Linked DNA regions of Homo sapiens. The protein of the gene in region 2 purifies or fractionates together with the protein of the main gene of each other region. This does not show direct contact. Each region holds a gene or a part of one and is shown on either strand. Other genes may lie near its edges.

Region 1 (7,733 bases), on a different chromosome or scaffold from region 2:
CAGCTCAGCTTTTTTAGTGTTTTGATTAGAAAATACACACACGCAATTGCTCTTTACCTCCAGCATTTCAAAGAGATGTGCCAACACCTCAGGCTGCTCTTAGAATGATAAATTACACATTTTTTTTTAATTACAAATTAACAATGACCACCACTTCCTCTTAATCCTAACTGGCTTTAATATATAATAACTTCTCAGGAAATCATACATCTAAATAAGGGCTTTTTATCAGATATCCTTATCCTCATAACATACAATATGTATTTATCTGTTTGAAAAGCAAAAAAAAAAAAAAAAATAGTGTGCCAACCCTAGGCTTGTTTCTTCAAATTATATATTCATAATTTCTCAATGTGGTGGAACAAAATATATTCTGTTCTTAAAATAAAAAGAAGGCCGGGTGCAGTGGCTCACACCTGTAATCCCAGCACCTTTGGAAGGCCAAGGTGGGCAGATCACCCGAGGTCGGGAGTTCGAGACCACCCTGACCAACATGGAGAAACTCTGTCTCCAAAAATACAAAATTAGCCGGGTATGATGGCACATGCCTGTAATCCCAGCTACTTGGGAGGCTGAGGCAGGAAGATCGCTTGAACCCGGGAGGCGGAGGTTGCGGTGAGGTGAGATCACGCCATTGCACTCCAGCCTGGGCAACAAGAGCAAAACTCCATCTCAAAAAAAAAAAAAAAAGGTACGAGCTGGGTGTGGTGGCACATGCCTGTAGTCCCAACTACTCAGGAGGTAGAGGCAGAGCTGCTTGAGCTGAGGAGTTCAACACAAGTCTCAGCAACACAGTGAGACCCCTATCCCAGAAAAACAAAAGAAGAAAGAAAAAAGGAGGCAGTCTCGTCTTGTTTAAGGCTGTCACCAAAACATACTAGCATGGCAGGATATCTGGGGACAGAGTGAGGGGTCACAGGAACAATGGTCATGGCATAAGAGGACTGGGCACGTGTAGGCCACCAAAGCCTGACACCTAAACACCCTTCCTGACATCTAGTATTTCAGAAACAAAACAGAACTGGATTTCCTTACACTTACTTTGAGTCACATACAGAAGTGGTGGGCGCACCCGATGATGCTCAGGGTTTCTAAAGGCCTCACTCTGTGCCTGGTGGTATGGTCATTTATTCCTTCACTGAAGGCACTCTGAGCGCCTGCTCTGTGCCGTGCACATGCTAAGAACTAGAGACAGAAAGATGAATCGCACAGTCCCCGTCTCAAGCAGCTCAAAGTCCAGTGAGAGCTCCTAGTCTCCAATGTTTTTAAAAAGAGGAAAGAGAAAAAGATATTTTACAACAAAATCTACACTCAACCAACTGAACAATGAAATAATTCTCTTTACACCCGAGTGATATCAACAGCCCCCTAAGCTTTCATAGCAACTGGTAGATGAAAAGTCGCCACCCTAACTGCTCTCCTCCACTGTGCAAACCTACTCTAAATCCCAAATCACTACCCAGGAGGGTCCTTTCTAAAGCAATGGATTTGCAGCAAAGAATGCTTTTCTGGTGTTGCACCTGACAACCTCACAGGCCCCACAGGCCCCCTTCCACAGCCCACAGGTGCAGGTTTACCTCTATACATACGAATATTTCATAGATGCTTCTCCCCACTAACCTAGAAGCCCCAGCAGAAGTGAGGACCATGTTTCCTTGTGCATGCCACTGTAAACCCAGGGCCCAGTCCAGAATGAGGGCTCAACAGATGTTTATAGAAGGAGTGAAGATTTAGAGAAATCGAAAAAATTTTAGATCTTACAAGGCCCTTGCATCTAAACACTCCTCCAATTATGGCTAAAAAATGAGGAGCTATAGAAAACTGTCCTATTTAAATTTTGTTTCTAAAAACATTCATTTTGGCTTCTTTTAAAAAAGTTACTCAATTACTGAACAGATCACTGGTGTGGCCTGTTGAACACAGTGCTGTAACTTCCTGCACAAGAGACAAGTCTGAAAGTTTTGCTTTCCGCTGTGAAAGCATTGGTGACTGCTTGACAGACTCGCTTGAAGCAAATAATGTGTTTTTGGTTAAAAAAAAAAAGTATAAACGCCTAATAACAAAATAGGCATATTTTTGGCTAGAATTTTTTTTTCCAAGGAAAAACCTCCAGCTCATTTTGCTGCCTAAGCCAAAACAGATGCTCCCACTAAGTTGGTGGTGGAACAGACCCAAAGATTCCAATAATGACATATATAACGTGTGTCAACAAGAAAACAAGTGTAAAATCTGCAAACGAGTCCCCAGCTAAGGCGAAATCTTGACAACGCTACTCTGAGGTGAGCGATCCCCTCCCTCCTCCGGGGTTAGGAGTGGCCCAGGAGAGGCGGCGGTGACACGCGCTCTGCGGCCCGGCCGTGTCCCTCTCGGCGCCCCGGGACCCCGCGTGTGGAGAAGGAGAGGCCCGGCGGAGGGAAGTGGCCGGGGAGGACCCTACCTGCCAGCCTCCGGCGCTCAGGGTACGCCAGCCCCAGGAGCTTCCGGGCCTCCGGGAGTCCGGCCGCTGCGGGGCGCAGCCGCCCCTTGTCCCCGGGAGGCGCCGCCGGCCCGCGCCGCCAGGCCTCGTCCCCTGCCCAGGCAGCGGCTGCGGGACCGCCCGGGAACCGGGCGCGCGGGAGCCGAGGAGCGCCTGGCCCGGCAAAAGCCCCGCACCTGCAGCTGCCGGGGCCGCGAGCCCACAGCCCCAGGAGCCGCGCGAGGCCCAGGACGCCCCGCGAGGCGCCCGGACCCCCGCCCCGGCAGCCGCTCCTCCAGCGGCGCGCGGCTCCAACGCCCCAGAGCAGCGCGGGCCCCGCGCCCCATAGCCGCGCCGGCCTCAGGCCAGTGAACGGCGATAGGGACCCGGGAACGCGGCTGGCCGCGGCCCACACGCAGGCTACCGGCAGGAGCCGACCTGGCTCGGCAGGGCTCGGTGGCTCGAGCAGCCGCAGCGGCCAGGCAGGGGGGCCTCGCATGGCGCTGCGTGCGACCCGTACGCCTCAGCCCGCCGGCCAGGCGCGCGCAAAGCCCGAGGACCCTCCCGGCCCGGCCCCGAGCAAAGGGCGTGGACGCGGTGGCGCCCGCCCCTCCCCGCTGGCTGTCACCCGCCTTATCGTGCCTGCACCCTCGGGCTGCGCCCGCCCCCGCCCCATCCTCGTCCGCGCGGTGCCGCGCCTCTCCGCCCCACTCCGGGGACTGCAGCTACCCGGACCTTGCAAGCCACCCTTCCGAGCGCCCCCAACCCGCTCGGGTGCCCTCCCTGCAGCGCCCCCAACTGCCCGCTGGCGGAGGAGCGCCGGGCGCGCCAGCTGGGACGAGGCCCGGGAAGCCCAGGAGCACGGCTGCGCCTGCGTACTGGGCGCAGGGAACTTTTTCGCGCTTCGCCGTCCCCTCTGGTCTGAACTTGGGAACGACACGAGCTCTTTCTCACGCCGGCAGACCGGGCGGAGCGCGCAGACGCGACCACACGATGGCCGGCACAAAGATGGGGCGGGAGGACAGCGTGCTGGATACGGCGTGGGGCGGGTCCGCGGCCCGGGAGACCCATGCTGGGGCGGCCCTGTCACTCGTCTCGCTGCCAAGCACAGGGCTGAGGTGCGGAGGGACCACTGAGAGGACTTCGCTGCGTGTCAGCTCAGCTCTGGACGGCGTGGAGGAGGTGGTTGGCGAATAGTGAAATGTATATAACTTTGAGAAGGGAAGAGATCGTTTCTTTTTTTTCTTTTTTTTTTTTTTCTTGAGACGATCTCGGCTCACTGCAACCTCTGCCTCCCAGGTTCAAGTGATTCTCCCTTCTCAGCCTCCCAAGTAGCTGGGATTACAGGCATACGCCACCACACCCGGCTGATTTTGTATTTTTAGTAGAGACGGGGTTTTACCATGTTGGTCAGGCTCTTTTCGAACTCCTGACCTCAGGTGATCCGCCCGCGTCAGCCTCCCAAAGTGCTGGGATTGCAGGCGTGAGCCACCGTGCCCGGCCTGAGATCGTTTCTTAACTAGAGCAGAAATTTGAAGACAGGCGTGGTCGAGGCATTCCCGCTGTTCGAAGTGGAAAACACTAATCAGAAGGCAATGCATCTTAATACACGTGCATGGAAAGACAGGAGAGAACATTAAAACTCACTGGGACACTTTATGGAGACTTCATGGGGGCGGGGGGGGATATGTACCTGAGGTCCAGTGAGTCGTGGGTAGATTTTTGTAGACTCCTAGGTATTTTTACTGGACCTGGACAGGGTACTGTCAGTTGCAAATTTTATGGGTTCACAAAATAAAAAAACCTCAATAATCAACATAAACATTTTAGTGCAATATTTTTAAAAATCAAAATTAATTTAAAAAATCCGTAATGAACAAAATATAAAAAATTTTGATTGAGTATCCACTCCTGACCTTTCACAATCCTGCCTCTCTTCTCTCGCTCTAATCCCAGCCCTGGAAACTTTATTTACAAAAACTGACAGCAGCTGCCCTTAGTTTGGCAGCTGGAAAATGGGAAAGAGAAAGTAAGAGGAAGGTGAGATTTGGGTTAAAGTTGTCACTTTCTCTTCAACTGGGAGGGTATCAATCCTTGATGTTTCTTTAGTTGGGCTCAAAAAGGAGGTAGCGGCCGGGCGCGGTGGCTCACACCTGTAATCCCAACATTTTGGGAGGCTGAGGCGGGCGAATCACGAGGTCAGGAGTTCGAGACCAGCCTGACCGACGTGGTGAAACCCCGTCCCTACTAAAAATACAAAAATTAGCCAGGTGTGGTGGAGCGTGCCTGTAATCCCAGCTACGCAGGAGGCTGAGGCAGGAGAATTGCTTGAACCCGGGAGGCGGAGGTTGCAGTGAGCTGAGATGGTGCCACACCGCACTCCAGCCTGGGAGACAGAGCAAGACTCCGTCTCAAAAAAAAAAAAGAAAAGAAAAAAAAAGAGGAGGTAGCGGCCAGGCGGTGGCTCACACCTGTAATCCCAACATTCTAGGAGGCCGAGGCGGGCGGATCACTCCAGGTCTGGAGTTTGAGACCAGCCTGGCCAACATGGTGAAACTCCATCCCTACTGAAAATACAAAAATTAGCTGGGCTTGGTGGTGCATGCCTGTAGTCTCAGCTACTTGGGACGCTGAGGGAGCATAATCGGTTGAATCCAGGAGGTGGAGGTTGCAGTGAGCTGAGATCACGTCACTGCACTCCATGCACTCTAGCCTGGGCGACACACCAAGACTGCATCTTTTCAAAACAAAATAAAAACAAAAAAAACACAAAGAGGAGGTAGCAAGATGCACAATGAAAACGATCCCATTTCTTTTCAGAAGTCACCTCATAAAAACTGACTTAAAAATTTTCAATTAAAATAAATTTTGCATGATTTGATTACTGAGACTTTTTAGCACATCTTTAAATTTTGTCCCTAGTAGAGTGCCTTAAGTATATGGTCCTGGTAGGTAAGGAGTGAGGTGGGGGAAGGATCGATAATAGAAAGTGTGGGGTTAAGTCGGGCCTTAAATGTGCCTGTGAAATGAGCAGTAAGCATGTAATCCTCTAAAGTCCAACCTCTTAAACCCAGAGGACATGGAGTCTCGCCTCCCTACCCCCGCCCCCCCACTTTCCTGCCCCCAGGGTGACGACAATTCAAGCTAGTTTCTCATCAGTGCAGAAGTTCTAGAATTGGTGGTGTAGTGTGAAATCAGCTCCACTGATATTTATGACTAAGCATGTTCCTTTTAGCAAATATGTTATTCAGTGACTTCTGAAAAGAAGTAGGATCATGCCTCATCATGCATCCTGCTACCTCTTCTTTGAGCCCAGCTGAAGAAACATCAATGAACGACACTCTCCCAGTTGGAGAGAAAGTGACAATTTTAACCTAGACCTAAGCTTCATCTTTCTCTTACCCACTTTCCAGAAAACCCCTGCTGCTGCAAGGGCCAGGAAATGTCAGACTGGCCTTCCCTTCCTGCCTTCCCTGGCATGGCATCCCACTGCCTTTTTCTGCCATTGCTCTCTAAGGCCTCCAGTCAATAGAAAAATAACTCAAGTGTAGCTGATTAAAAAACAAAACTTGGCCAGGTGTGGTGGCTCACGCCTGTAATCCCAACACTTTGGGAAGCCAAGGTGGGAAGATCATTTGAGGCCAGGAGTTTGAGACCAACCTGTGCAACACTGGGAGACTCCATCTGTACAAAAACTAAAAATGTAAAAATTAGCTGGGTGTGGTGGTGTGTGCCTGTAGTCCCAGATACTTGGGAGGCTAAAGTGGAAGGATTCCCTGAGCCCGGCAGGTCAAAGCTTCAGTGAGCTGTGATTGGGCCACTGCACTCAAGCCTGGGCAACAGAGTGAGACCCTGTATCAAGAAAAAAAAGAAAGCCTGTAATCCCAGCACTTTGGGAGGCTGAGGTGGGTGGATCACCTGAGGTCAGGAGTTCAAGACCAGCCTGGCCAACATGGTGACACTTCATCTCTACTGAAAACACAAAAATTAGCTGTGTGTGGTGGTGGGTGCCTGGAATCCCAGCTACTGGGGAGGCTGAGGCAGGAGAATGGCTTGAACCCAGGAGGCGGAGGTTGCAGTGAGCAGAGATCACACCACTGCACTCCAGCCTGGGCAACAGAGCAAGACTCTGTCTCAAAAAAAAAAAAAGAAAGAAAAGAAAAAAAAAGTCTATAGCTCTTAAAAGTACAATGGGGAATGAATATTAGCAGAAGGATCACCTGGACCTATATTGCCATCACAACAACAACAACAAAAAAGATGACCTACTCTAAATATATATATATATATGTTTATATAACATATACATTTCATATATATATGAATTATTGCTTTGCATTTCTATGACCTTCTCTTCTCACTTGAAAATAAGAATAACTTCACTGCCTCTTTTTTTTTTTTTTTTTTGAGACAGAGTCTCACTTTGTTGCCCAGACTGGAGTGGGCTCACTGCAACCTCCACCTCCCAGGTTCAAGCAATTCTCCTGCCTCAGCCCCCTGAGTAGCTGGGATTACAGGCGCCCACCACCACGCCTGGCTAATTTTGTATTTTTAGTAGAAAAGGGGTTTCACCACATTGGCCAGGCTGGTCTCAAACTCCTGACCTCTGGTAATCCGCCTGCCTCGGCCTCCTAAAGTGCTGGGATTACAGGCATGAGTCACTATGCCCGGCTCTTCACTGCCTCTTTAGAAATTAGGATCAAGTTCCTGGGCCTCTGAAAAAAGCAAAAAAAGAAATAAATAAAGACAAAAAACAAAACAAAAAATGCTCTAAGGTGTGTTTGGAAAAGAATAAAACAAGCCAGTTAGATGTGATTGGATTAATAAAATACCACAGCAAAGCAAGAAAGGGCTGTGTATTAATGCCAAGAGAATAACAAAAGTTTAAGTCCTGCCCACAAGAAAGACACAGAAGGCTCTTGATGGAGGTGTGACTGAACCAAGAGGTAAAATCTGGCCCTCTGAATAGACTCTTAATAGGTTTCGTGGCTAACAGGTATTGAATTCAAAAGGGACTTCTTTTGATGCAAATTGAGAGCTGTTGGGATTACTTCAAGAGCAATTCCACCTGTGGGTGCTTGTCCCTCTCTAAGGGTGGCAAAGGAGGGAGCCCATGTGGACAGCAGGAACGGGTACACGATAGCACAAGAATCAAAACAAAGGCTCTCTGGTCGGAGTTTGTAAGCTGATTAGGGGTGTCATTTGACCCTTATTGGTACATTCTTGTTCTTTCGACTCAAGCCTGCAGCTCATCATGTCAAGGGTAGGGTGTCAGGAC
Region 2 (7,022 bases):
TTTGACCTTAATTCCAGATGTGCATGCCTCAAAAGAAAAATCCCATTCTCCTTCCTTTTGGGGAGCACTTTTGGTGGCACCAAGGCTGGTGTGGGGTAGTGGAGAGAGCACTGAGCTTAGAGTCACAACCAGATGAAACTGCTCTGGTCTTCACTAGCTGTGTGACTTGGGCAAGCAGCTTGCAGTCTCTGAGCCTCTGAGATCCCTGATGGACGAGGAGAACAATGACCCCCTCCCCAGGCTGTGCTGAGAGAGGGAATTGATCTTGGATATGAAAATGCTGCCCTGGCACAGAGGTAGGAGCTGAGCAACACTGCTGGATGAATAAACACATGTAATGCAGGGTGAACAGAACATTTCATCTGCAACAGCTGAAGGCACAGCTTACCTATGCCCATGGAAAGAACTGCGTGGAAAATTCATTTGTTGCATTTTTGCCAGGTTGATGTTTGCAAAGCAGGGCACTCTTCTCCACATTTCCCCAAAACCAATCAGAGGGAGACTCCACATTGTTTCCATCTCCTCCCCTCAAACAATTATCAAAGCCATGTAGAACAAACGGCTGTCTGCCAACTGGTAGAGGCAAAGCAGCCAATAATCTGGACAGGGGTGGCAAACTGCTCCTGCAGTTTAACCCTGCCTGACTCTCCCAAGCACCAGACTGTGAAGCCTGGAGAACAGCCTGGGGGAGCTGAACAAATGCACAACACCTCATGCTGTCAAGCCAGAGGGGAAACTTACTGGGAAGAAGATGTAGGAAGAAGCCTGGTCAGCCCACGCCTAAAGCACACACCTGGGGAAATAAATTAGCTATTTCTATTGCACATCTACCCACAGCCTGGTCCAGATCTAAATCTCTTCCCCTCCCAGCAGTGCAGCGGCGGCAGCCGCAGGCTCCCTCAGCGCCATCTCTTCAGTCAGGCTCCTCTCCAGGTCCTCCAGCTCCTGGCGCACCTCCTCCATGAAGCTGCCAACTTCATACTCATCGGGGACCTCTCTGGGCAGCAGGATCTCCCCATCTTGGTCACGGCTCCCCACGAAGGTCGGCTTGCACACATACACCAGGCTGTGGCTGGGGAGAGATGGGACAAAGCCAGGCTCTAAACGTGGGAGCCTGCCCAGGCCGAAAGCTAAGGCGCCCTGACTCTGTGGGGCTCCCAGCCTCACCTTCATGCCCCCTCCTCTCCTGTCTCTTCAACAGAGACACTTCACTTCCCGTCAACATCTATCTTAAAATGATGGCTGAGGGAGGCTCACTTTGGGAGAATGTGCTGGTGGGGGGCAGCTTCCCCTCCTCCAGCGCAGGCCTGACCTCCTGTGACTCTCAGGCCCCGCAGCCCAGGGGCAGGACCTGAGTGCTATGTAGCAGCACCACAGCCCCTCAAAGACTGTGGCCCATTCGGGCCTCCAGGCAGGAGTCAGCCTGACTCTGGGGTGTAGTCTAGCCACATGCAGGGAGCCATGGACCTCTGTGGGAATAGGGAGGAAGAATTCCTTTTTTTAAAAAAAATTAATGTGTTTGGTAGAGACGGGATCTCCCTATGTTGCCCAGGCTGGTCTTGAACTCTTGGCCTCAAGCAATCCTCCTGCATTGGCCTCCCAAAGCTCTGGGATTACAGGTGTGAGCCACTGCACAGAGCCGTGGGGAATGGGAGTTCTGCCTGTCTGCCCAGCAGCCCTGGATTCTGTTGGGAGAGAAGACTGAGTAGAGGCTGCGGGGAGGACAGGGAGATGTGCCCTGAGAAGCTGGCCAGGCTTGAGCCTCATGCCTCATGGAGTCTCAGCAGCCTCAGACAGTGTGGGCTGCACCCTCCACCTTGGTGGCCACTCCTGGCCTCCCCGTGGCCTCTCTGCCAGCTCCTTTTTCTCTGCTTATCTGTCATTGTGACAGGTCTGGGGAGGGAGCCCAGGCTTTTCTCCCTCCATGTCCTCTCCATGGACCATCCACTCATGAAGCTTCAGCCACCAGCTAGATGAGCCCCAGATCTGTGCCTCCTGGGCAGCCTGGGCTCCAGACCCCTAGAACCGACTGCTGATTGGACCCTTCCATCTGCATGACCCAACGACCTCTCAAACCAATCCTAAAGGGAATCTACACCTCCCCCAGGGAAAACCTGCTCCTGCTCCTACGCCCCTGCTGGATGGCACCTCCTCAGCCCTTGGCTCCCTGAGAGTGAGGGTTAGGGGGCCTCACCTGTGGGGCTGGCAGAGGAGGCCACTGGCACAAGGGCATCGGTCCAAGGCTCCATCAGGCTCTAGCTCCCAGGTGATGAGGTCCAGAAGCCGGCTGGCGGGGTCATGGCAAAGCTCGCCCTCCACGGGCAGGGGTGTGCACACAGGGAACAGCAGGCCTGGAACCAGCCCAGAGTCACCCCTGTGTGCCCCGTGTAGGGTAGAAGGGCTCCAAAGGGAGGGGCAAAGAAATGGAGCATAACCTCCCACCTCCCACCCTCAACCCCAAAGTGCAGGCTAGTTTTGAAGATACGGAATGACAGGAAACAAGAATAGCAGCCTGGGCTCAGGAGGGAATGATTGGTAGGGCTGAAGCAGGGAGGACTGCCTGGAAGAGGTGGGCTTCTGCTGGATTTTGAGGGCCAGAAAGTCTGGAGAAATTAAGAGGGAGGCAAAGGCATTCAGGCACAGGGACAGCACCAGCAAAGGCCTGGGGTTGAGCTCAGTGGAAAATGTCAGGGCCGGTGAAATTCCCAAATAGGCCAAGAAGTAGTGGAGAGAAAAGGAGGGCAAGTAAGTTGGAGCTGCATGAGGCCTCACAAGACAGCCTAAGGAGTCTGAACATCGTGGGAGACAACAGGAGCTGCTGCAGGTCCCAGGGGAGCAACACCCAAAAAGCAGCCCTTTAGGAAGATCACGGAGGCGGCAGGTACAGGGAGGACTAGTGGGCTGGGGATGCAGAGCTGGGGAGGCGGCAAATGAGAATTTTTCAAAACCCTAGTGGGGGCGGAGAGAGCCTGAGCAGACCTCACCTGGGAGAGGCAGGACGGAAGATGGGAGTGGAAGCGGGTGATTCACAGGTAGAGGAACCTGGGAAATAAGGAGTGGTGGGAGGGAGGGGGCTGCTAGTCCCACCCCATTCCAGACTGGGCTTTTGCATCCTGAAGTCATTTAACTTTTCTGAGCATCAACAGGGGAAAAAAAAGAGGTGGTCTTCCCACTCCGGGCAGAGGCTGTGGGAGTGCAGCACACACTGATGAGCATTTGGGAGCCTATCCAAGAGGTGGGACGCGAAACCATGTGGTTGGCATGGACGTGGCTCCAGGAGGTCCAGTGTGGTGGAGCTTGGGACAGGGTTTTTCCTGCATCTGAGGGGAGGCCACTCACCTCTCTGGAAGGCACAGCACAGCCCCGGCTGGCAGTCCCTCTGGTTGTCACAGATGGTCCCATTGCTGCCCCTGGTGGCCATTTTGGTGCAGTGACCCCAGACACACAGCTGGTCTCCACAGCACTCACTGTCCCGGGTGCAGAGCTGCAGACAGGTGGAAAGAGCCTAGAGCCAGCGGCTTAGGGACTGGGGGCCTGCTGAGAGCCCAGCCTGAAGATACCACAGATAGGCCAACCTGCATCCTCCCATTGTAGAGACAGGCAGACCAGGCTGAGATTTCAGTGAAAGTCAGTGGGACAGAGGTGGGAGCTTGGCTGGCGAGACATGGGGGTCAGAACGCTGGAAAAATGGCACCGGGAGGACTCATGGATCTGAGTCTTTCTCCACAGCTTAAGATTTTGCAAAGAACAGCAGGGGGTCTTTGTGGTCCCCACAGACTTGTGCTGTTCCCTTTTTCCTTAGGTCCCTAGGTCCAGGCCCAAAGAGGCAAGGCCCAATGATGAGCCGATTAAACTAAGGCCCAAGCCAGCCCAAGATGAGGATGGCCTGTGGGTGCCAGGGTCCTGCAGCCACACAGGGCATGGCAGTTAGAGAGCAAAGTGAGGTCCCCACGGCTGTGCCCAGTGACGGTACCGAGTGGGGTTGGCTGCGAGGTGCAACAGCAGTGGCCTCACCACAGACAGTCGGGTAAGGTAATAAGAACTGCTTGACTTTCCAAGCTTATTAGCATGCTGTGTTATTGTCTGAATAAGGAAAAATGACTATGAAAAGTCTGTGAGTCCATGTGGCTTCGTCCAAAATGCCTGTTGGGTGAAGAGTCTCCTTTGCCCTGGCTCCACATTTCCCAATCTAACCTGCACTGGGGCAGTGCCCTGGCCTCTTCTTGCCCTGTCCCTCTGCCCTCTCTTATTGGCAGATTGGAGAAAGATCTGGTGGGTGGGGTGCAGGTCCAGAAGGAGAGCAGCTGCCGCTCTCCCTGCCTGGGGGCTGCCGGAATGTCTCTGTTTGTCTATTAGGATGGGTCATCCCCAGGGGAAGCAACAGGTGTAGGGACACCTCCTCTCCCTTCCCTCCCCTTCTCGAACTCCCGGCCTCAATAGATCCTTCTGCCTTGGTCTCCCCAAAGTGCTGGGATTACAGGTGTAGCCACGGTGCCTGGCCGTCCCTCCCCTTCTCTACCATCAATGACACAAACAACATGACCAGAGGACATGGGGTGGATGGGAGTGGCCCTGGGTCTGCAGATGGCTTCCTGTCATCCCAAACTGGAATGAGTTCCTTGTCCTCCAGGAGTCAGCCCTCTGGGGAGCCCTCTTGGGTCCTCCCCATCATGGTGAGGCTCTTCTGGGAAGCCCAGCTGAGAACGCTGGGGCCCCTGGCTTTCTCCCCCAGGTGCCTGAGACCCTGGTGCCACAGCCCCAGAGGCCCTGGCATACTCACCATCCTCTGGCCCCGGCATGGCTGGCAGGTGTACTGGAAGCTGGCAAACTGGCAGTACATGCTGGGCCCACAGTCCTCGTCGATGATGCACTCCTGGGGAAGGGCACAGGGAGCAGATGTGTCAATGGAGAGCAGAGCAGCAGGCCCACAGTGCCCAGGAAGGGCCAGGCCCGCTTCCATTCCCCATTCTTGACCCCACAGGCTCAGCAGGGTCAGGAAAGGCCTCCAGACTCTAGTCGCTCCTGATCCCTGCCTGGCTGCACTGCCCTTCAGCATCTCCATGCCTAGGAGGCTTGGCAGCCCAGAGCCTGGAGGATCCCACACCAAATTCACACAATCGCCATCTGTGCACAGTTCTCCCCCACCCACACCCAGGGCGGGAGCACAGGGACTCAGGGCTGGTCTTCCACACAGAACATATGGATTTAATAAAAAGTGCTAATGAGGTCCAGGCCCGCCCGACTGCACAGGAAAGGCTGGAAGACAGGCCCCAAGGGCTCTGCTGACTGTGAAGACTGGGAGGCAGCAGAGGGGGCATCGCTAGGGACCCTGCCAGAAAGCCACAGCCCTGCCCACAGAGAGCGCCCTCAGGGTCCTGGGTCTAGGGTCCCTGCAAGAGGGAAAGGCAGCTGCCAGCTTGGAAATGAATTAGAGGAGGGTGGCTGGACTCCAGCCCTCCCAGCCCAGGTGCTGTCTCCTCATGGCTGCCAGCTCTGCCTGGCTGGAGAAACAGGGAGAGAAGGAGTGAGGGGAATCTGTCCACCCCAAGGCCTGAGTCACAGAACAGGGAGCCATGGCCGAGGGCACTGTGACCTGCCATGGTCGCCGGTCACTGGCAGAAGCAGGGCTGCTTCAGCTCCTGGACCTGCTGTCAGGCTCAGGCCTACGAACCGGCAGCTTTACAGCAGGGGAAGGAGGGCAGGGGAGGAGGGAACATGATGACAGGAATGGCCATTGATCGCCCTTTTGAGGTATCAGGCTTGACGGCCCTGATCTTGTTCAGTGACTCCTCCCAGCAGGAGGCAGGTAGGGACTGCCTTCTCTATATTGCCAGCCGGGAAATGGAGGCAGAGAGGTCCCTCCAAGATAATGTGACTAGTTCAGGGTGGAGGGTCTCTTTCCACCACCAGCCCTTGAGCCAAGGGGGTTCAGGGCTCCACATGTAGCAGCCAGTGGTGAGAAGGACCCTCCTGAGGCCTGGTATTCTGGGGCCCAGCAGACCTTCTGGAAGGGTCTTGAGGAAGGGAAGGACCGGCTCTCCCCTCTGACCCAGAGCATCCTCCCCATCCTGAATGCAGGTGTGGAGCCCCACCTGGAAGAGCCTGGCCGGGCAGGCCTGGACCTCCGGCAGCTGCCTCCAGTCCCCTTCCAGGGGCTCTGCTGCTCTGATCAACACTGCAAGTGCTGGCGGCCCAGCAACCAGGGTGCTCCCTTGCCAAGCATTGATGCTTTTGTTTCAGTTACTTTCCCAGCACCCCTTAAATGTCAGGCATGATACCATCGCTGTTTTTACGGATAAGAAAACCGAGGCTCCGAGTAGGGTGAACGGCCGCCCAAGTGAAGGGACTGAGTCTGAGCCAGAGCCCCAGCGGCCAGAGAAGTCCCAACAGGGCTGGGAACAAATCACAGACGCGCTTTGTCTCAGCCCAGCACACGCTCTTGTGCACAGACACAACTCAGGCTGCTCAGCCGGAAGCCTCCCGACGTTCTTTCCAAAGCAGAATGGCAAGAAAATGGAGTGGGAGGGACGACATTTGGGAGAAAGGAAGGGCCAACAGGCACAGAATCCCTTCTCTGAACCAGCCATATTTTGAGGGACTGGGGACACAAAGGTGAATGTGAGGAGGCCTCTGCCCTTAAGAAATTCGTAATTCAATTGGAAAAAGAGAGAGAGAAAGAGCAACCCAGTGGCAAAGGAGACAAAGGGTATGAACGGACAACTTAGAATAACAGAAATTTGCCTCTTCAAATAGAAAGGCGTTCAACCTCACCAATGAAATCAATCAAGAAATGCAACTTAAAAGAGCATAACACCATTTTTTTCACTTAGAATGGAAGAAATTAGAAAGGTTGAATGTCTCCATGGTGGGTGGAATAACAGCACCCCCAAAGATGTTCACATCCTATTCCCCGGAACCTGTGGGTATGTTATATTACATAGGAAGGGGAAATTAGAGGCAGAGGGAATGCAGGTTGCTAATCAGCTGACCTGAAGGTAGGGAGCGCACTCTGGATTATCCAG

What was found. Proteins that work in one complex are often made in the same cells at the same time.
Region 1: the proteins of DKK3 (region 2) and ABCB10 purify together in Homo sapiens (co-immunoprecipitation; 3 studies listed by BioGRID and IntAct, with this or other methods). This does not show direct contact.

What each region holds. Positions count from the first base shown.
Region 1 is NC_000001.11:229,555,699-229,563,431, forward strand, and holds the start of ABCB10 (ATP-binding cassette sub-family B member 10, mitochondrial), read right to left. Parts: upstream 3,010-7,733; 5' UTR 2,955-3,009; coding exon 2,438-2,954; intron 2,365-2,437; exon of another isoform or gene 1,042-2,364; intron 1-1,041.
Region 2 is NC_000011.10:11,963,615-11,970,636, forward strand, and holds part of DKK3 (dickkopf-related protein 3 isoform 1 precursor), read right to left. Parts: intron 4,874-7,022; coding exon 4,781-4,873; intron 3,485-4,780; coding exon 3,340-3,484; intron 2,352-3,339; coding exon 2,195-2,351; intron 1,115-2,194; coding exon of another isoform or gene 1,073-1,114; coding exon 850-1,072; 3' UTR 1-849. UniProt on the Homo sapiens protein: Antagonizes canonical Wnt signaling by inhibiting LRP5/6 interaction with Wnt and by forming a ternary complex with the transmembrane protein KREMEN that promotes internalization of LRP5/6.